Regions from separate parts of the Homo sapiens genome. Here all the other regions are reported to be linked to region 5. Evidence: microRNA targets listed by miRTarBase, many of them from high-throughput screens and not tested one by one. Region 5 holds a microRNA gene; each other region holds the end of a gene's coding sequence.

Evidence for each region. Region 5 holds the annotated microRNA hsa-miR-548ay-5p (AAAAGUAAUUGUGGUUUUUGC, at 1,935-1,955, shown strand). A microRNA usually pairs through its seed, bases 2 to 8, with sites in the 3' UTR of a target mRNA and lowers its output. Matches are read on the target gene's strand: a 7mer-m8 pairs with bases 2 to 8, a 7mer-A1 pairs with bases 2 to 7 and ends in A, and an 8mer does both.
Region 1: miRTarBase lists UBE2H as a target of hsa-miR-548ay-5p. Seed matches in the 3' UTR shown: 8mer at 2,338-2,345.
Region 2: miRTarBase lists XKR9 as a target of hsa-miR-548ay-5p. Seed matches in the 3' UTR shown: 7mer-A1 at 1,626-1,632 and 7mer-A1 at 1,790-1,796.
Region 3: the mRNA of NACC2 is a reported target of hsa-miR-548ay-5p. Seed matches in the 3' UTR shown: 7mer-A1 at 2,213-2,219.
Region 4: miRTarBase lists KLRC3 as a target of hsa-miR-548ay-5p. Seed matches in the 3' UTR shown: 7mer-m8 at 872-878.
Region 6: miRTarBase lists FRY as a target of hsa-miR-548ay-5p. Seed matches in the 3' UTR shown: 7mer-m8 at 1,766-1,772 and 7mer-A1 at 494-500.

The regions. Positions count from the first base shown.
Region 1 is chr7:129,831,950-129,835,489 of GRCh38, reverse strand. It overlaps UBE2H (ubiquitin conjugating enzyme E2 H), which reads left to right. Exons shown (of 7, transcript NM_003344.4): 7 at 429-3,540. The coding sequence ends at 553. Among named protein-coding and RNA genes, the nearest start is that of MIR183, 59 kb to the right of the region's middle. RefSeq lists an enhancer at 170-829.
Region 2 is chr8:70,733,691-70,737,230 of GRCh38, forward strand. It overlaps XKR9 (XK related 9), which reads left to right. Exons shown (of 5, transcript NM_001011720.2): 5 at 106-2,252. The coding sequence ends at 734. Among named protein-coding and RNA genes, the nearest start is that of XKR9, 66 kb to the left of the region's middle.
Region 3 is chr9:136,008,652-136,012,191 of GRCh38, forward strand. It overlaps NACC2 (NACC family member 2), which reads right to left. Exons shown (of 6, transcript NM_144653.5): 6 at 1-3,373. The coding sequence ends at 2,865. Among named protein-coding and RNA genes, the nearest start is that of UBAC1, 49 kb to the left of the region's middle.
Region 4 is chr12:10,409,753-10,413,292 of GRCh38, reverse strand. KLRC3 (killer cell lectin like receptor C3) reads left to right here. Exons shown (of 7, transcript NM_002261.3): 7 at 677-978. The coding sequence ends at 721. KLRC4-KLRK1 (KLRC4-KLRK1 readthrough) reads left to right here and starts at 3,147. Exons shown (of 13, transcript NM_001199805.1): 1 at 3,147-3,194. KLRC4 (killer cell lectin like receptor C4) reads left to right here and starts at 3,536. Exons shown (of 4, transcript NM_013431.2): 1 at 3,536-3,540.
Region 5 is chr3:32,504,757-32,508,296 of GRCh38, reverse strand. It overlaps MIR548AY (microRNA 548ay), which reads left to right and starts at 1,908; the gene lies at 1,908-2,014. It also overlaps the pseudogene RPL31P18.
Region 6 is chr13:32,294,614-32,298,153 of GRCh38, reverse strand. FRY (FRY microtubule binding protein) reads right to left here. Exons shown (of 61, transcript NM_023037.3): 61 at 1-2,952. The coding sequence ends at 2,694. Among named protein-coding and RNA genes, the nearest start is that of ZAR1L, 19 kb to the left of the region's middle.

The DNA.
Region 1 (3,540 bases), not on the chromosome of region 5:
ACTGACCGTAATTATGTAACTGCAGATCTAAAAATGATGAAGGATTTCCTTATAAATTACTATGGAATCATGACTGGTCCTATACTATCTGGGAGATGAAAGTAAAAAGAAAGCGTGGGGCTCCCATTTCCCTGGTCCCTGAAGAGTTCTTGGGGTGCTGCAGCACACACATTCCCCTGCAAGCTGAGCCTGCTGTGTTGCTCTTCCCAATACCCCTTTCCTCAGGGGGCAAAATGCAGAAACCCTGTCCCAAAGAAGTCTCCCTATGGGATTCTCCTTAGCTGTAGTGATCATGATTACTGTCATCTTTGTCCCCCCTGGTGTTCAAGGTAAGTTTGAACCTCCGCAGCCTTGCCAGCTTTTTGGGGTCGCCAAAGCACATGCCTGCCCACTCACTGCCCTTGTTGTCTTTCTCCCACCCCGTGCAGAGTACATCCAGAAATACGCCACGGAGGAGGCGCTGAAAGAACAGGAAGAGGGTACCGGGGACAGCTCATCGGAGAGCTCTATGTCTGACTTTTCCGAAGATGAGGCCCAGGATATGGAGTTGTAGTAGAAAAAGCACCTGCTTTTCAGAAAGACTATTATTTCCTAACCATGAGAAGCAGACTATAATATTCATATTTAAACAAAGCAATTTTTTTTATTACTAAACAAGGTTTTTATGAATAATAGCATTGATATATATATATTATATATCACCCTTTAGATCTTGATTTCTTGGTCATTTCTCAACCTGAGGTGCATAGCATATTCCCACATTCCATTTGGTAGCAATATGCGGTCTGAATGCATGCATTCATGAGTCCATGTGGCCAAGTCAGCCTGTGTGCTACTGAACTGTCGAAGGAAATAGCCGCTCTGATAGGTAGATGTGAGTAAAAAGAACAGGAAAAAATTGCTTCTTTTATTGGTTTCCAAAGAAACAAACCAAACCAACCAGCTCTTGGATGTGAAGATAAAATAGTGCTTTTTTGAAATGGAGAGGAAAAACTTGGGGAGGAAGAGGCCTGCTGTGGGGGCATCGGAGCCAGCCATGTAAGAATCAGAGCTGCTCCTTCCTGTGAATCCTAGGTGGCCCTATGTCTTCTGTGGAGTTACAGTATAAAGCAGGGAGCTAATTAAGAGTATTAAAACTTAAAACCATTTTTTGACTCTGATTTTAAGTACATTTTTATATGTCAGTTGCTGCCCTTCACACTACCAGGCCCTGCAGCCACAGTGTTCTGTTGGAGAAACTTGGGGAAGTGTTTTCTGAACCAGTTCTTTTTCTTGGGGTAGAGCGTGAAATCCAGACCTGTTTTTGAAAGGACAGCACAGGAGGAGAAAAGTGACTGGGACGATGCTTCCTCTCATCCAAAACACATGCAGAGTCACATCCTCATCCTAGTGTTTGGCAGTTTGAGACCGCTACCCTGAACTTAAGAGCTTTAAATATGAGGGTTGTGTTTCTGGGGGGGTTATTTTTTTGGTGTGTGTGTGTGTGTATTGTGCTTAGAAAGGTTGCAGATTTCATCTTCACCTACCAAGAGGCGGCCGCCTCCTTGGACAAGCCGCTCATGGACCATTAGACTTGAGAAGACGACCCACGTGGTGACTGCAAAGCCCTGGGTACTTGCCTTCATGTTCTGGTTTGGTTTTCCCTTTTTCTGCTGCTCTTGGCAGCAGCCTGGTCATCATCTGCTTGTGGGAGTGGGAAATGGGTATTTTAGACCCAACACAGGTTCTAAATTTAAAACAAATAATAATTGGAACAAATAAAGGTTCTTGTACCCAGAGTGATTCTACATGGGAAAAACAAACCAGCTTTTTTCAGAGAGTGACCGAATAGGAAGAAGGGATTCAGAAATATGATGTAGTAGAACATGCCCTGCAGGAAGAAAATGTTTTCTCTCCTGCGTATGTTAAGAGGAAATCAGTTTAAAATGCCTGCTAATCAAATGTCGACTCAGCTAACCATATGTCCAGGTTGCTGCAGAGTTTCTTTCAAATCTGAGTGTTGCCTGCTGAACTCGGAGGGGAGTTTGGAGAAATTTTAGACAGCAGCTCTGTGTTCTTTTTTTGCCGCAGCCAATAAGATAATAGCAGAATTAGCCAATCCTAAAACCTTCTAAAGACGATTTTTGAGCATCCCACTGGGATTATTTAATTTTTCTTTTTGACGTGTGTTTTTAGTTTAGAAGTGCTGTATTCCACAAGGTTTAAGTCAGTGAGGTTGGAAGATACCCTATCTTTTTTATTCAAAAAGCACAATCAATCTTTTGTTTGAAAATCTATATAAAGTACAACTTGCTTTTAGCATGATTATTTTCCTAAATAAAAAGACAAAGAATTTACTTACTTTATGTTAATTACGGGCATGAAGCAAAAGGTTTTCTTTAAAAAAAAAAAAAAGTGCAGTGATGTAGGGCTGTGGTTAGTTAACCGTACTGAGTTATCCATCTAGCATCTGTGGCTTGCTGGAAGGGTAGTATTAACTATTTAACATGTAATGGTGTACTTCACTCTTACCTAGCACGCTGTCTTCTCATTGCTTTGGGGGAGGGAGGGTCTCTCTGCTGGCACTGTCTAACTTGCTTACCTGCTGACTTTGCAGTTTGCTTGTGCTATGACATTTATTGTAGGTGCTATTTAGGGTAGGCTTAAAGTGCTGGGTGGTGATTTGAGTTCAAACAATAAAAAATTGTATTTTTTCAATATTGTATAAACAATAGTGTTCTAATTACCTTAAAAAAAAATAATGACCAGTTAAGAATTGCTTTTGATCTTGTCAAAAAACTGAATAGACCCCAGTTTCGGGAAGGTGTGTGAGCAGTGCCATGACTCTGCCCCTTACCTAATCCCACATCTCTCTAATGATAAGACATTGGCTCGCCTCTGACCAGAGCCCCAGCACCAGAGAGCGGAAGATGCAGAATTGTCAAATGACCTGCTGGGGGAGGTTGTAGGAGTTTAGCAGATTTGAGTGTGGCTGCAGAGAGAGAGAGTGTGTGTATGTGTGCACATGTGTGAGAGTGTGAGCGAGAGTGTGTGTGTGTCCATCTAAGTGTGTGTGATGAAGGTGGGATAAGGCTCCTCTGTTAGTGCTGGAAGCTCCTGTAATTGCCGCATGGATCCCACTGTGCCCTCTTGTTCTGTGCAAGTCTGTCCTGTCTGGGCACTAACCTTGGTCCCATGCATGTTTATGTTCTGGGTGGGGCTTTGCCTCTCCACTGGGAAACTGACTTTTGCTGGGTTGAACAGAGTCCCTTATGCTTTTTGTCCTCTCCCTGCGCCTGGGAGAGGTGGGAGTAGGAGCCCAAACACACAGGTACAGAAAGATCTGGAAGAAGGCCTGGCAGTGAATCCAAGGACTCTGGGCCCCCAACAATAGATGGTAGCGTAAGTCTGGAGCAGCGGTGTTTCACCACCAAATGCCTTTCCAGGCTGCCCTTCCAACACTCAGGAGAGCATCCAGATCCCTGGGCAGAGGCTCTACATTCTTGGCTTTAGAGGTGGTGGCAGCGGCAGCAGGTCAGAGCCACTTCTGGCGGTTTCCCT
Region 2 (3,540 bases), not on the chromosome of region 5:
CGTGTTTGTGGGTGTGTGTATATAGATATAGCATGTATGGGATATAGTAATCTAATATTTCTATTATTCCTATAACAATATATTTTTTATTTTTTTGTTTTGTAGATGCGGCCATCATGGTCTCTTGCTGTGCTATTTCTTGGTCAACTGTTGATTATCAAGTAGCTTTAAGAAAATCCTTGCCTGACAAAAAGCTTCTTAATGGATTATGTCCCAAAATCACATATCTCTTTTACAAGTTGTTTACATTATTATCGTGGATGCTGAGTGTTGTACTTCTACTATTCTTAAATGTTAAGATTGCTTTATTTCTGTTGTTATTTCTTTGGTTGTTAGGTATAATATGGGCATTTAAAAACAACACCCAGTTTTGTACTTGTATAAGTATGGAATTCTTATATAGGATTGTTGTTGGATTCATTCTTATCTTTACATTTTTTAATATTAAGGGACAGAATACCAAGTGTCCAATGTCTTGTTATTATATTGTTAGGGTACTGGGCACTTTGGGGATATTGACTGTATTCTGGGTTTGCCCCCTCACTATTTTTAATCCAGACTATTTTATACCTATCAGTATAACTATAGTTCTTACTCTTCTTCTTGGAATTCTTTTTCTTATTGTTTATTATGGGAGTTTTCACCCAAACAGAAGTGCAGAAACAAAATGTGATGAAATTGATGGAAAACCAGTTCTAAGAGAATGTAGAATGAGATATTTCCTAATGGAATAAGCTATTCATTTATGATATATATTTTCTTATATTTTGTTTCATTGGTTAGTAAAGAAAATGTGTGTTATGTGGGTGTGTTGTCTCTTATTTTTGCCACCTTTAATTTGAAATTAGTTCAGTGAAATAGGAGATACATAGTAGTATTTTATTTTTAAAATTAATTTCTCATTTGGTTTTGAAGATCTTGAGTACTCAGATATCTTTCTACTGCCTGGTAGAGCTGCCATCTTGAGCCTGAAATATAAGAAATGGTCTGGTTTTCATAATGAGAAGGCTGGAATTGAGCTTCCCTCCCATTTTCCTTGTTCCTGAACTAATACTACTGTACCTGTTATGGAGGACTGCAAAGGGAAGAGAAAAGCAGAACACTGTATTATTTTTTCCTTTATTGTCTTCAGTGCATATATTTGCAGTTGGGGACAGGTTGAGTAGAGGAAAAGGGAAAGAAGGGAAAGCAGAAAACAAATTTTTAGCATCTGCTGTGCTTTCATCCATGAAATCTCCAATTCAGTAAGTGCAAAAGAGAATTGGTGTGCATCTGAGAGGTCTGACATTTCATTATTTACTTATTTCCTAGCTTTTCTGAATTAATGCACTCTTAACATATAATTATATTAATCCTATTTGTGCTAGAATAGTTGTATCTAAATCATATTTTAAAATTATTTTTATTTTTAAAAAATTATGGTAAAAACATATAAAATTTACCATCTTAATCACTTTGAGTGTACAGTTCATCAGTGTTAACTGTATTCACCTTGTGCAACAGATCTCAAGGACTTTTTCACCTTGTAAAACTAAGATTCTCTATTTATTGAACAAATCCCCATTTCCTCCTTCCCCAAGTCTCTCTCAACTGAAATTATAATTTTTTGTTTCTATGAGTTTGAATACTTTAGATACCTTGTTGCCATGGTTTGAATGTGCCCCCCAGATTTCATGTGTGTGAAACTTAATCTCCAAATTTGTATGTTGATGGCATTTGGAAGTGGTGGGGACTTTGTTTATTTATTTATTTTTAATTTTTTAATTTTATATTATTATTATTATTATTATACTTTAAGGTTTAGGGTACATGTGCACAATGTGCAGGTTAGTTACATATGTATACATGTGCCATGCTGGTGTGCTGCACCCATTAACTCGTCATTTATCATTAGGTATATCTCCTAAAGCTATCCCTCCCCCCTCCCCCCACCCCACAACAGTCCCCAGAGTGTGATGATCCCCTTCCTGTGTCCATGTGTTCTCATTGTTCAGTTCCCACCTATGAGTGAGAATATGCAGTGTTTGGTTTTTTGTTCTTGCGATAGTTTACTGAGAATGATGATTTCCAGCTTCATCCATGTCCCTACAAAGGACATGAACTCATCATTTTTTATGGCTGCATAGTATTCCATGGTGTATATGTGCCACATTTTCTTAATCCAGTCTATTGTTGTTGGACATTTGGGTTGGTTCCAAGTCTTTGCTATTGTGAATAGTGCTGCAATAAACATACGTGTGCATGTGTCTTTATAGCAGCATGATTTATAATCCTTTGGGTATATACCCAGTAATGGGATGGCTGGGTCAAATGGTATTTCTAGTTCTAGATCCCTGAGGAATCACCACACTGACTTCCACAATAGTTGAACGAGTTTACAGTCCCAGCAACAGTGTAAAAGTGTTCCTATTTCTCCACATCCTCTCCAGCACCTGTTGTTTCCTGACTTTTTAATGATTGCCATTCTAACTGGTGTGAGATGGTATCTCATTGTGGTTTTGATTTGCATTTCTCTGATGGCCAGTGATGGTGAGCATTTTTTCATGTGTTTTTTGGTTGCATAAATAAATGTCTTCTTTTGAGAAGTGTCTGTTCATGTCCTTCGCCCACTTTTTGATGGGGTTGTTTGTTTTTTCTTGTAAATTTGTTTGAGTTCATTGTAGATTCTGGATATTAGCCCTTTGTCAGATGAGTAGGTTGCGAACATTTTCTCCCATTTTGTAGGTTGCCTGTTCACTCTGATGGTAATTTCTTTTGCTGTGCAGAAGCTCTTTATTTTAATTAGATCCCATTTGTCAATTTTGGCTTTTGTTGCCATTGCTTTTGGTGTTTTAGACATGAATTCTGTGCCCATGCCTATGTCCTGAATGGTAATGCCTAGGTTTTCTTCTAGGGATTTTATGGTTTTAGGTCTAACATTTAAGTCTTTAATCCATCTTGAATTAACTTTTGTATAAGGTGTAAGGAAGGGATCCAGTTTCAGCTTTCTACATATGGCTAGCCAGTTTTCCCAGCACCATTTATTAAATAGGGAATCCTTTCCCCATTGCTTGTTTTTGTCAGGTTTGTCAAAGATCAGATAGTTGTAGATATGCGGCGTTATTTCTGAGGGCTCTGTTCTGTTCCATTGATCTATATCTCTGTTTTGGTACCAGTACCATGCTGTTTTGGTTACTGTAGCCTTGTAGTATAGTTTGAAGTCAGGTAGCGTGATGCCTCCAGCTTTGTTCTTTTGGCTTAGGATTGACTCGGCGATGCGGGCTCTTTTTTGGTTCCATATGAACTTTAAAGTAGTTTTTTCCAATTCTGTGAAGAAAGTCATTGGTAGCTTTATGGGGATGACATTGAATCTATAAATTACCTTCGGCAGTATGGCCATTTTCATGATATTGATTCTTCCTATCCATGAGCATGGAATGTTCTTCCATTTGTTTGTATCCTCTTTTATTTCACTGAGCAGTGGTTTGTAGTTCTCCTTGAAGAGGTCCTTCACATCCCTTGTAAGTTGGATTCCTAAGTATTTTATTCTCTTTGAAGCAA
Region 3 (3,540 bases), not on the chromosome of region 5:
CTTGGGAAAAATGATCAAAGGATGCTAAGGCACTCTGGAAGGCCCCTCTGAGCCCGGGCCGCCGCCCCCGCCCCACGGTACATTCAGGACGTGGAGGGAGCACACAGCAGGTCCGCTCAGCAGCCACGCACGTCCACAGACACTCCCGACTCACGCCCACCGTGGGACACATTAGTGCAAAATGCTCGGCCTGGCCCGCCCGGGGCGCAGGGAGAGCTCAGAACCCATTCACATTAAATTATTATTATTTAAGTTTTATCTATAGCTCTTGCCTTCCTTACCCAGAACAAAACAGACGGCGATTACAAACGAGTGAGGAAGGGGCACGGGACATTGTGCGGGCCTGAACAGCAGTCAGGCGTCCTCTGTGCAGCCACCACCTCCGGCAGCAGCCAGCGGCTCCCTCCCTGTCCTGGCCAAGGGTGGGGGGGCACCCACTTTGGAGTGGAGGGCAGAGAGAGCCCTTCTGTCAGCAGCCAGGCCCCCAGGGATGGTCAAATTAAAGTGCAAATTTGGGTGTGGGGCAGATGAAGGAAACTCCAGAGGGAACTCAAGTGCAGCTCAACCTCACCTACCTGCCCCTGCTCCACCCCGCGGCTTCCTCCCATCTCCGAGGAAGGCTTGGTCCAGGTTCCCAGCGGGCCCCATGGGGGCTCCAACCCCACCTGTGCCCAAGACAGGGGAGGAAGAGGCAGAGAAAGGCTCCCTCTAGGCTGGGTGGTTCTTAGTTCAGCAGAAGGTCTGGATGCCTCTGCACCACTGAGCCACCTGCAGCCCTAGGAATGCAGGTCTTGGTCCCCCTGGACGTGGGCCCTGAGGAATGGGTGGAGGGGCCGAGGTTAGCGTCCACAGTGCCTGCCCATGGTCCCCCACCTCCTTCTGGAAAGCAACGTATTTTTCTGGAGGGCAGGCATGTGCTGGGCCTGGCTGGAGGCAGCCCAGGAGGCTGAGTGCTGTCTGTAGAGGCGGCCCCACGGGAGGTCTCCTAGGGCCTCGCCACAGGGGTGGGCTTCGGGGCAGAAAGGAGCCGCCCAGTGGGAATGCGTCTAACCCACACCCTGTAGGTCCCCAGGCCAGGGTGCAGCACATGGTCCTCCCCTAGCGGAGGCGGCCTCCGCTTGATGGGTTGTGGAGGTTGGGGGAGTGGGGTGCGCTGGTCGGCCACCGCTCACTGGCCTGTGTGCACACCGGAGGGGGTGCTGATGGGCGCAGGGCTGCACTTGTTTTGCAAGTGAAGATGGGGAAGCCGAGTTCTGGAGGGACAGAGGTGAGCAACAGACATTTCAAGTCTTGGGATGGGGGGTTCTTCTGGCCACACCTGGGAAGGAGGGCTGCCCCTGGACAAGGACACAGGCCTCCAAAACAAAAGGGAGGGACACCTGGGTAGGTGGCCACACCAGCACTTCACACAGGACTTCACACAGTCTGTGAGCCCTACCACTTAAAAAACAGTAATTAAATTTCAAAGGAAGCACTCCAGCCTCAAACCAAACAGCCCCATCTTCCATGGGCCCTTCCTCCACTGTCCCTGGCCCCCCAACATGATCCCTAACCCTCTGTCCCCTACCAGTGCCCATACCTCCAACTGCCCCAGCCCAGGCCTGTCCCGGTCATCCCCTGCCTGCAGCCTCAGGCACCCTCCATCCATGCACACCCCTCAAGGCAGACGGGGAGCCCAGCACCGGGAGGACCGACTCTCGCCCTGGCCCAGCCCTGGCCGCTGCCTCCTGCCCGAGCGGAGTCCCCCGCTCCCCAGGTCCGGCCCTGAGCTCAGCTTCACACGTACTAGTCGCCCACCCGGGACCCCCTTTTTCCCCCAGTGGGAGACGAGTGGTCCCTGGCCCTGGGCGGGGGAGCAGGGGGACGCACCCTAACGGCCACAGATGACCCACCCCAAGCCATGGTGGGCTGGGGACAGGGACACCCATCCCACCCAAAGTTTTTGTTCTATTGAGTCTGAAAGTTTCCAAACCATATATGAAATAGATCTAAATTACAACAAAACCTAAAAAAAACAAGACAAGCATAATCCCAAAGTGGCTGAGGCGGCAGAGGGCAGCGTGTGCTACATCAGCTGTGCACGTCCCACAGTGGGCCCGGGCGGGACAGTGGGAGGCCAGGCGGGGTCAGCGGTGCCCTGGGGGTCAGGGGACCGAGGGGCTGCAGAGCCGAGACGGATCGGGCAGAACAAGGACAGGGTGTGGGGGCAGAGTAAAGTACCCTTTTCTCCACCCCGAGGGGTGGGCCACAGCCATCACTGCCCCCTCACCACACCCCTGCACACACACGCACACACACACACTCGTGCACACACCCCACACAGGTGGAAGGCCCGGTGGGCCTGGCCCCGAGTCTCCGAAAGAAGGAAAAACGAGGAGTTAGGCCCTGGAGCCTGAGCCCTGCCCCGTCGCCCCAGAGAGGTTCCATGGGGAAGGAAGGAAGGGTCAGTGACGCACAGCCCAGCCCCCTCGCCACAGACCACCGCCGGCCCCTGCTTCGTCTTCCGGGCAGGAGGAGCAGGAAGGGCAGGGAGGAAGGGGCAGGGCTGGGCACCAGGGGCCTGGCGGCCTCCCACCCTCCCCAAGAAGGGGGAGGGAAGCTACACTTGGAGGCTGACCTTGTGAATATCAAAAGGGAGCCCTGGGAACTTCCTCGCAGGAGGCTGCCAGTGGCCTAATTGTTTACAGTATAATGAATGCATTTGTTTCCTTCATCAATTTTAAATACAAGCAGAATAAAAATCACATTTTTCTCAGGCAACAGTAGCAGTTCAGTAGGTAAGTGGCTTGATCACATTTGTTTGTATTAGTAACGCATGCAAGCAGCTCTAGTACTCGGTCCCTCGCGCAGCCACCCAGCTCCGCTTACAAGGTCCCTGCATAGGTGCCCTCCGGCCTCCGGGCCGCGGCCGCCGGCGTCTGGGGCCTGCTGGGGCCGCCCCCGCCCTGCTCAAAGGGCTGTGGGGGGCTCTGGCCATCGGCGGGCAGCGGCTCGGGGGCGGCCACCTCCTGGATGACCGAGCCAGCCCCGTCCACCTCCTCGCCGGCGTCGAAGGCGGGGTTGGCGGCGGCACTCAGGTCAACATTCACGGCGTCAGTTCTCAGAGCCACGATGGTGGCGGCGTCGCCCCGCCGCTCGGCGTAGATGCGTTGCTCGAACACCTGTGCCGCGGCAGGCGGGAACTCGGGGTCGAGGGGCACGCTGGCGGCGGCGGAGCCCATGACCGTGCGGTACATCTCCACGCCCTCCGGCAGCATGGACTTGATCTTGGGCAGCCAGCGCTTGCGAACGCGGCGGGCGTTGGTGCACATGTCCGCGGCGATCACGTTCATCTCGCTCTCCTTGAAGCTGGGGGCGAAGTTCTGACAGTACACTGTGAGGACGGGGCGGCGTGAGCTCAGCCACCTGCCTGCCGGGAGGCCCGCCCCTCCCCAAGGCCACAGAACCATGATGCCCTGGATGAGCCTCCCCGGCCGCTCCTGGGGCCCATGTGACCACCTGGGGCTCTCCTGGCCTCAGCCAGAAGACCAGAGGTCACGT
Region 4 (3,540 bases), not on the chromosome of region 5:
TTCTTTGGCCCATATGTTATTTTGACATATATTACTGAATTAAAAACCATATAAGGTTCTCAGATTTTTGTTTATTGACTTCTGTTGTAGGTAAAATATAGTTAGAACATTTTCTATTAAACTGGAAATGTTCTTCATCCCTTTATAAATGTGGCTCATGTGGTGAGGTACTGGTTTTAAATGTTATTTATTTTTATTAATTAATGTTAAATTTGAATAGCTACATTTCAACTGTCTCCTAGCCAAGCTTGGCTAGCGGTACTACATTGAAATTGAGTATCCGTGTGAGTATATGTGTGTGAATGCATTCATATGAGTGATGGTTACTTGTCTAGTTTAAATCTTTCTATAGGCTCACTGGCCTGTCTTGTATTAAGCATCAAGAGAAGAGTCTTTAAAAATCCCATTTATGATTGTTTACTTGTTCACTTTATTCAACTATATGTTGAACTTGTATCATTAGGTATATGCAATGATAAAAAATATATTACTAATGGTTTGGAAAATTAATTTATCATTATGAAGTATATTTCCCCAATTTCAGTAAATTTCATCTCGGCTCACTGCAGCCTCGACCTCACCTCCAAGGCTCAAGCGATCCTCCCACCTCAGCAACCAGAGTAGCTGGCTACAGGCCAATACCATCATGCTGGCTAATTTTCGTATTTTTTTGTAGAGACGGGGTTTCATCATGTTGACCAGGCTGGTCTTGAACTCCTGAGCTCAAGAAATCAACACATCTTGGCCTCCCAAGTTGCTGGGATTACTGACACAAGCCACCGCCCCTGAGTGCTCATGTACCATTTAGCTTGTGTTTTAAAAATCTACTTTTTCTGCCCTCCCTATTTTTAACTAGATGATGTTTTAAAAATTACTTTTCCCTCTCTATATAGTTTGATTTAAGCATTAGTCATTTACAACAAATATTAATATTAAAATGCAGACCGTTATGATTGGAAAATAAATCAATGAACAATATAATGAGTGGTTTTTATATATTTCAATCTCTGGCGTGGTGATATAGTACAATATTTTTTAATTATTTATTCTTCCCAGAGACATATATTTCAATGAGAGTTATCTGATTAATTTATTTTTAAAAAACTGAATGAGAGAATTTTAAGAACTATCAAGAAAGTAAGTTGGGAATTTAACTTTGAGAATTGATGTCAATTACAATGAAGTGGAAATGTATTTTCTCAGAATAATTAGTGACAAATACATTAAATTCCTATTGGTAAGATTATTATTTTAAAAATTTATCGTCATATTAGCAGTGATATTATAGGGGTATATGATAAAGAAGTACGTAATCCCAAGTTTTAGCCACCCTGTGTAAATGTAGAAGTTAAACATGTAAGAGACTCTGAAAAAGGTATAAGATTTTAGTGTTTGTGATTGAGATGGAAACAACTGCATGGGTAGTAGTCTTTGTTCTCCCCAAATCTTGTTTACTATAAAAATAATTTCTAAAAGTCACTTGAAAATGGACAAACTAAATGACACCCTAGCAGCTCAGTCTCTTATATTCTGAGGTGTATGATGAGATAAACTGATTCAAAATGGCCCTAGTGTGAAAACTTCCTGTTCAAATCCGAAGTGATACATTGATGAGGAATCTGCTTTTTGCACTCTTGCCTCACTCTGAGCTTTCACAGGGCAGTCTGTGAAGATCAGAGATATCTGTTTTTTGTTTTTTGTTTTTTTCTGAGACAGAGTCTCGCTCTGTCGCCCAGGCTGGAGTGCAGTGGCTCCCGATCTCAGCTCACTGCAAGCTACGCCTCCCGGGTTCAACCGTTCTCCTGCCTCAGCCTCCCAAGCAGCTACAGGCGCCCGCCACCACACCCGGCTAAGTTTTTGTATTTTTAGTAGAGACGGGGTTTCACCGGATCACAGATGTCTTTTGTGTCGTTAAGAGGTAACCTGACCTCTCCACTAAGGGGCGTGTGACTTTCTGATGACAGAAGGTATGTGTTGCTAGTCTCCTGTTTCTCTACTAGCTCATCTCCTTTAGTAGAAAATTGTAAATATTAAATGTGATGCAACAAGGTAAAGTTAATACAGAATAAAATCAAAGTAGAACTGTCTGTACATGAATAATTCAGGGTGAAAAGCAACCCAAAATATAATATATGTTTGAGGATTTCTTAAAGTATTTACATTATTGCCTGTGGAGAATTAGTCAAGCACATGCATACATCATAATAGGTTTGTTAATCAATATAATTTAGAGTGAAACCGATAAATATCACGACAATGAAGAATTAATTTGAAATTTTATAATCATTATAGATGTAATAATACTTTATATTTAGCCCAGACTTTAAAAATGCATTTTTAATGGATACATCAAATTGTGAATGTCAAACATAATTTCTCATACACATACTTATATTTAATTGAAGCAGATTTTATTTTTTTAAGAATGTAATAATGAAGTAGTTTCCATAAAATGCAAATCTAAACTTAATTATAAATAATAGGACGACCTAAAAAAAATTGAGCCAAACAAACATTGCAAAAAAGATGTACTACACTGACATGAGACTCCTACCTCATTAGTTATTTTACACACTCAGTATGAATTAGAAATAATAAAATGGCAATTGTGTTAAAAATAATTAAAATATCTAATATGTATTGAGGACTAATGTGTGCCAGGTTGTATGTTAAGGGTTTTATATACATTATACTTCATAAATTATTTTCCCCAATCTAGATTAGTAAACTGGTGTTGTAGACACCAAGTAACTTTGTAAAGGTCATGCATTATGAGTTTCAAAGCTGTAATTAATTTTAGGTCTCACTGGCTACAGAGCTCATTGACTAGATTATTAAATTATATTTTCTGATTTATTACAATTACTTACACAACCAAAGTGACCCTCGCTGCCTTTTAAAACAACCACAGGGTCTTTCTGAAAGTTTGAACTTAAAGTGTTCTTTCATAGATGGTCCAAACTTATATTTATCATTTTCAGTTTTCCTATTTTAGTCATTAAATCAATTACCAATCAATTCTGTAAAATAAAGAGTTAAATCTTTTTCAGTAGTATTTAGTTTATGCATAAGTTAATGTAATGTTTTACAAGGTATAAAATATTTCTTTAAAATTTTAACAATTTTTCTGTTTTCCTCAATCATTCAGAATAAAAAACATTTGCCAAGACCTCATGCCCTTTTAGTAAACGAATGTAAGTCACTAACTTAATGTATTTTAGTATTAAAAGTTGTTCTATATGCCAACAAATTATTCCTCCATCTTTAGCGCTCAATCCTTACATTAATGAATTTTAAAATTGTCATACAATTAGTGCATTTTATTTTCAAATTTCAATTTTAGTTTTTTACACAGGTATTCTATTGGTGATAAAATATTTCTGTAGAATCTGATTTTAAATTAATAAAGATATTTATATTCAGTTACTTCTTAGTTTTCACAAATGTATTGTTTTTTATTGTTCCCATTAATAATATTATGTCAAATATAGAAGGCCTTTTAAAAAGTGACCTATTGTTTAAAGAGATTTCAGTTTAAAA
Region 5 (3,540 bases):
GATTTTTGAAAGTGGTAACCGGTACATAGGTAACCAAAGTATAGAGCTTATTTGGTGAATCTTCATCCTTATTCTGGATAATCGCACACGGATTCGGTATGAGACATTCCTTATTCCTTTGGCCCAGACAGCTTTGTTGAGCCTGGTAGCAACGCACATGTCTGGAGCTACCATCTCCTTCATGGCAAATTTCCGAATCTCTTTGAGTGCCCAAGGGGCACACTTCTTGAAGCGCACTCCATGGGTGCGCTTGTGAATGTTGATGGTGTATTCTTGGGTCACCACCTCGTTGATAGCAGAACGGCCCTTTTTCTTTTGGCCACCCTTCTTTGCGGAAGCCATTCTGTTGGGTCCAAGTTGGAAAGGCAATATTTTATTTTATTTTATTTTTTTAAGACAAGGTCTCACTCTGTCACCTGGGCTGAAGTGCAGTGGCACAATGGCACAATCAAGGCTCACTGTAGCCTCAACTTCCCGGGCTCAAGCGATCCTTCTACCTCAACCTCCCAAGTAGCTGGGACTACAGGCATATGCCTCCACACTCAGCTAATTTTTTTTTCTTTCTTTCTTTTTTTTTTTTTAGAGATGGGGTCTAGTCTGGTCTCGAACTCCTGGACACAAGGAATCCTCCTGCCTGGATTACAGGCATGAGCCCAGCCTATTAATAAATTAGATAAATCTTTGAAGCAGGCTTACTATATGCTTGTATGAAAGTTATCTTTTTAATTTTTTGAAATTTGTACTTTGACATCAATAAGAGTTACTGCCTCCTATATTACCTCTCTGTTATTATTCTCCCTCAATCTCCTTGTTACCCAGACTTGAAATATTGGCACCTGCTCCAGTTCCTTTCTTACTCTCTAAACAAATCAGTCCTCAAATCTCACTGGTTTTACCTCCAAGGTTCTCTTGGTGCCATCCCCATGATTAACGTCAGAGTTTAAGCTTCTATTCCCTCTCTCCTGAACTTTTACAATAGCCCTTACTTGGATCTCTGTAACCACTGCGCTCAAGGCTACTAGAAAAATATCCCCAAGGAAAAGCTCCGATCATTTCACTCCCCTTCCTAAAACTCGTTGGGGGTTCTTCATTACCCAACAATAATGGAAAGGCCCAGTTCCTTAGCTTGATTTTCAAAGCCTTCCAAAATTTGATCTCGAGCTTATATTCCTTAACTACTCTGTCCTTTCCTGCTCCCTTCATTCACTGTGCCTATGCACACTTTCTTTGCCTTCCTTCATACCACCCTACTGCCTGAATACTTTCTGCCCTGTATCTGCATGTCCAAACCGAAGTATAGTTTAACCCCATCTTGAAGCTCCACTGTAGTGATCCTTTAAACTGAAAGTTATTTCTCTCTGCTCCGAATTAGCAACATATTTAATTTGTATCTCTTCTATAACACATATCTCTTTCTATTTTGTAACATAGTTCTTTGTGGACATTACTGTGGTATCATTGTAGGATAGCGTCTATAATCTAACTTTGTATCCACAGTATTGCCTAACTGTGCTAATACCGATAAGAGGGCCAGTGAAAAATTGTTTAGCAGGAACTGCTGAAAAAAATTAAACTCTGAACTGAAAAAGTAGTACTGAGGCAGGATAGGCAGTCAAGGAAGTGCCCATATCCTCAGGACGCAGCAACCATGGTGACCCCAACAGTCAACACAATAAGCCTCAGCATTTGAATTGTGATTGAACTCAGTCGAGCAAAGCTATCTTCAGTAGGAAATTTCTTCTATAGAGAGCATGAGCACTTTGATTTTACCTGTCCTCAAACTGACCTTTTGCTCATTATAATAGCAAAAAACATGCCCTTGGGTGGAGATTTACAATGCTAATGGGACACCTGAGGGAGGAACATGGGTGCACAGCTACTGCACATGTGCAGCCAGAGGACCAACCAGAAGATGCTTACTACTAGGTTGGTGCAAAAGTAATTGTGGTTTTTGCATTTAAAGTAATGGCCAAAACCGCGATTACTCTTGCACGAACCTAACGGTAACACTTCTTCCCACCTCCTTATGAATAATCATGCAAATAATACATGATTAGCAATAACCTCCAGCAATAATCAATGTTGTCTCATCCTTACGAGCAGCCTGCCCTGAATTCTCTCTCTCTCTCAGGGTGTGATGTCTATTTTGTACTTAGCTTTCAAAATTTTTTTTTCTTTTGCAATAAATTATGCTGCATCTCTTTTGCTGTATGTCTCTTGTTTAAATTCTTTTAAACTAAGAAGACAAGAACCAAGGTCTTGCAACAGCCTCCAACACTACCACATTATTTTTTGAATGGCTGAAGTCCCATCAAATTATGTTCCCCAATCGCTCTCTCTTCTTGTGAATGTTTTTCTTTCTTTTTTTAAAAAATTAAATATCTAATTTTAAAGGAGAACAGTGAATATTCTTTAAAACCTAAATTTAGTGTATCTTCCTTTCTTCTTTTTGTCGTATTTTTTTCACCATACGTAAGATTTCTCATTTCAACATAGTGAGTCCCACCATTTGACTATTGCAAGTTGTTTTATTCATTAATGAGGGTGACAGTTTTCTGTGTGAATATGCCCATCAAAAGAGTTTCCTATACAAGTATTTGCTCATGAAGCACTAACATTTTTATTTGGTCTTTCAATTTATGAAGAAAATGTAAGGGATGCCCATTTCTTTACCTGGGTGAAATATTAGTCTCTAAATCCCAGGCACCCCCAAATCAATCAGAGCAAAGAAAATATGGCACGTCTACTGTCTACTACACAATGGCTTTCACTTTTATCACATTATAAAACAGTGTTTCTCTATGTGGATGGATTTCTTCCCAGATTCACATGAAGAGCTTGTTACGAAAGTATATTCCCAAGCCCCATCTACATTCAGAATCTTTGGGGCTAGATCTCCAAGAATCTTCCTTTTTAATTAATCTCACAGATGATTCTTCGCCATGTTGGAGTTTATGAATCACAGGCTAAATTTGTGTCTTCTTCTAAAAATGCAAAGAGAAGCAGAGACCCCTAGAGAATTGCATAAGTGTGCCCTAAACAAACCAAGAGGGTTGACGAAGTCTGTTCATCTTCTCTCTTGTCTCAAAGTATCCTTGTTTCTTTGTAACTTCCTCCCAATACTTTATTTTGAAAATGTTCAAACATACAGAAATGCTGAAATAATTGTACAGTGGACACCCGTATACTTCACCTAAATATTACCATTAATATGTTACTGCAGTTGCTTTATTAGAGATCCTTGTTGTTGTTGTTTTTTTAACAATGATTTTTTTTTTTGAGACGGAGTCTCGGTCTGTCGCCCAGGCTGGAGTGCAATGGTGTGATCTCGGCTCACTGCAAGCTCCGCCTCCCAGGTTCACGCCATTCTCCTGCCTCAGCCTCCCGAGTAGCTGGGACTACAGGCGCCCGCCACCACGCCCGGCTAATTTTTTGTATTTTTAGTAGAGATGGAGTTTCACCGTGTTAGCCAGGATGGTCTTGATTTCCTGACCTCGTGATCCGTCCCCCTCGGCCTCCCAGAGTGTTGGGATTACAGGC
Region 6 (3,540 bases), not on the chromosome of region 5:
ATGTGTGTGATGCCTACAATTAATTACAGGCATCTTTATTTCACAGTAACATCGGCACATTTTCTTAACATCTCACCGATGTTAGATGGGTTAGAGGTGGGAATGACATTCACGTGCCTCTAAAAATGTGCAGTGCCTTTTCTAAAACACTATATTTGGAGACTATAATTTTAATCAAGTGATGTCTAAGTTACAGAGCGCCTGTCTGGATTGCTTTATTCTGCAGGTGGATACAAAGTGTATCATGTTTCAGTGCTAGAAAACAGTGAGACACAAGGAGGCATCTTTCTTATCACTGAGGCATCTGTTAAATATCTACCCTTTCCTTTGGTACTTCTACTTCTTTGTATCCCTGGGGAAGGCAATTAACATTAATGCTTCTGTAACAGAGGCACAGAGCAATAGCCGACAAGATTTGACTGGTAGATCTAAAGTTATTGCTGGGCTCTGCTGGCGTGGGGCTGCATCCTACACAATTTTTCCCATCTCCACTTAAAGTAGAGGAGGTGAAGAGATAGAGGAAAAGTAGAAGAAACCTTTCACATTAATACATCTCCTTTTAAAAATAAAATTGAGAAAAACACAGACCACTGCTTCCTATGTTAATATCTTGGATTGTAATGTACTGTTGAAATCCTTTTTTTTTTTCCTTCCCTTTTTAAGAGTAAACCATCACGGTGGTTCTCTGCTGGGTAAGAAGCCATGGTAGAAAACTCAGTTCATGACGAATCTGTTCTTTCTACTGTGGCTCCCAACAAAACTCTCTGAAAGTTGTCTACTGTGGTTAGCCACAGAAACCTTTATTTTATGATATTTTTCAGAGAGATCATGATTCAGTTGTTTCTACAAATCATAGCAAATCATCTTTCAGGCAAGTTGAAAAAAATAAATCATCAGAAAAATATGTTTTCAGCAGTCCAGAAAATTATTAAAATCTAGTAGTTGCATCTGTAGCAACTACTAGGATTTAAAAAAAATCCTAGGTTAGGCTCTCTTCTATAGAATACTCCTAGAATATTACTGCCAATGATTCAGTAGCCATATGCTAGTAAAGCAAGCTATATTTGTTGGTCCATGTAAAATATGAGTAGAAAGACGGCATAAATGAGATTGTTACATGTTTCTCCCTGTGTTCCTGGGGGATAGGTGTTGGTGACAGAATTACAACTCTACTACTTTTTCCTGCTCACTATAGAATTAACTTCCAAATTTGAAGGATGACAACCTAATTATAGGTTATGGAGAATTAGAGCTCTCACTTTTTTCTGATTTTTCTCTTTGGTTGATTACAGAGAATTGGTTGAAGCTCACAGTTTTGATGCCAACTTCCAAAGAGATAATACTTACCTCCAGCTTCACAGGGCCATGCATGGCATGACCCCCACGGGTGCCATTCAGATCATACATGCGAGGGGTGCCCCTTGGGGTTATTACTTTGGCAACCCACATGCAAAACTTCATGTGTGCCCAGGACAAACATTTTCATTAACCAGAAATAAAGTCCATGGTCAACGTGTATTTTGTCTTTTTTTTTTTTTTTAGTCTAAAGAAAGTTCTGAACAGAATATCAATTAAGCTTACATCACAAAAACTTTAAATGTATTTACAGAGTGAATAAGTTACATAGATAAACTCTGAATATGTTTCTGCAGTGCAACAAGTTCACATGCACACATCTAACACTTGACAGCATTAAGTTTAAGGAGAGAACTTAAGAATGGCCCTTTACATATATATTACACATAAAATATGACATCGAAGAAACAAAGTAACAACTCATATTTTACCTTTATGATTCTACTTCTGACTATCCAAACAGATATTAAAATATGCATGCCTGACAGGTGAAAAGACTTGGAATTTATCTTGTGAATAGTTTTCTCTACAAAACGGCAAAGTTAATTAAAATTAACACTCATCCTTCAGCAGTATAAATATGCTCATAAAAGCAACCTTCTAGTAAAAAGCAGCCAAGATCCTTAAAAAGAGTCTATCTGGACCATTTTTGGTGCAAAGAGATCCAGGGCTTTCAGAAACAGTAGCCTAGCAACATAAGAAAGGTACTTCATAGCAGCTCCTTTTAGATACAGTAATTGTATTCAAATTACAGTGTACATTACATTGCAGTCCATTTACAATTCCCTTTTCACATACACAGGCTGTCAGCTTTTGACCATCTTACAGTTTTCAGTGGCCAGCTTCATTTTGCCTGCCCCTTTCTCAGCCCACGAAAGAAAGGAAAAAGAAAAAAGAAAAAAGAAAAGAAAATGGAACAAGACAGGGAAAGAATATACATGTTTGAGAATATAAAATTTTTTGAGTGAAGAAAACATTGCACTTTTGCCAATCTAAAATTGTTTCTAGAAAGGAAGGTACTGTTCAGTGTAGTCGGCTTTGGTATGCAACGGAAGTCACTTCTTCAGTAGCGAGTTGCATATGCTCGGTCAAATGTAACACATTTGTGCCACACAGCATGATGAGTGGAGTCTGTCCAGGACGTTCTAAGCTACCTTGGTTCTTATAGTATTGCTACACGTTGGAAGTTCTGCCATCCTCTTTAGAAAAAGCCCTACAGGTAACAAGAGGGAGAACAGTCTGTCCAAGCCTTTTGAAGGCCGAGAAGACACTGAATGACGTTGCCCCAGCATGGCAGCACTGCCAGTTTGGAACCCAGTGGGGACAGGAGGCTCCTGTCAGAGACTAGTGCCAGAAACACTGGAGTCTGGAAGAAAAGTAGTGAGGACTCGGTAACTCTGGGCCCTGCGGATCATGTCCCGGATCTCCATGTTCAGCTCCATCAGCTTGGTGCAGATCTCGGTCAGGCTCTGGTTAGACCCCACCAGGGCATAAGTACCCGTCTGTCCCAGAGTTTGGTGACGGAAATAAATATTCAGTAGTGTCTGGACCTCATCATCAGAACTGCTTCCAAAGATGTCATTGGGCCACAGACTTCTGCAGTCAAAAAGAACAGCACAGATTAGAGGCACTATTAGTCACAAAGTTGGGAGCTTATGAGTCTTCATTAATATAAGAGTATTACTTTTTAAAAAGGCTTTATTGAGATGGAATTCCTGTATCAGGTAATTCACTCATCTAAGGTAAACAATTCAGTGGGTTTTAGTATCTTCAGAGTTGTGCAAACATCACCATAATCAATTTTAGAATATTATTTTGGTAAAATATCAAAAGTATAAAAATATCAGAATGGAATCTGACACTCCTAAAACATTTACCTTATTTGCTATAGCCTTCTGGTTTCAATGAATGTGAATACAATATCAGAATGTAGGGGCAAAACCAAAAAGAATATATTCAAATGTTAGTTAAAAATTATATAAAGGTATATTTTGAAGTGCTTCAGCATTTTGTCATTTTAGGGACGACAAATGGCCAGAACCAACACCAACACTTTCAATATGTAGTGTTCTGAAAGCTGAGTGTTTCTGGTTTGGCAGCAGTAAAGATCTGAGAAGAGATCTGTAAAATATCTAGCCTTCCGTAGTGGGCTAGACTCCAACCATGACAGAGTAACAACCAGGT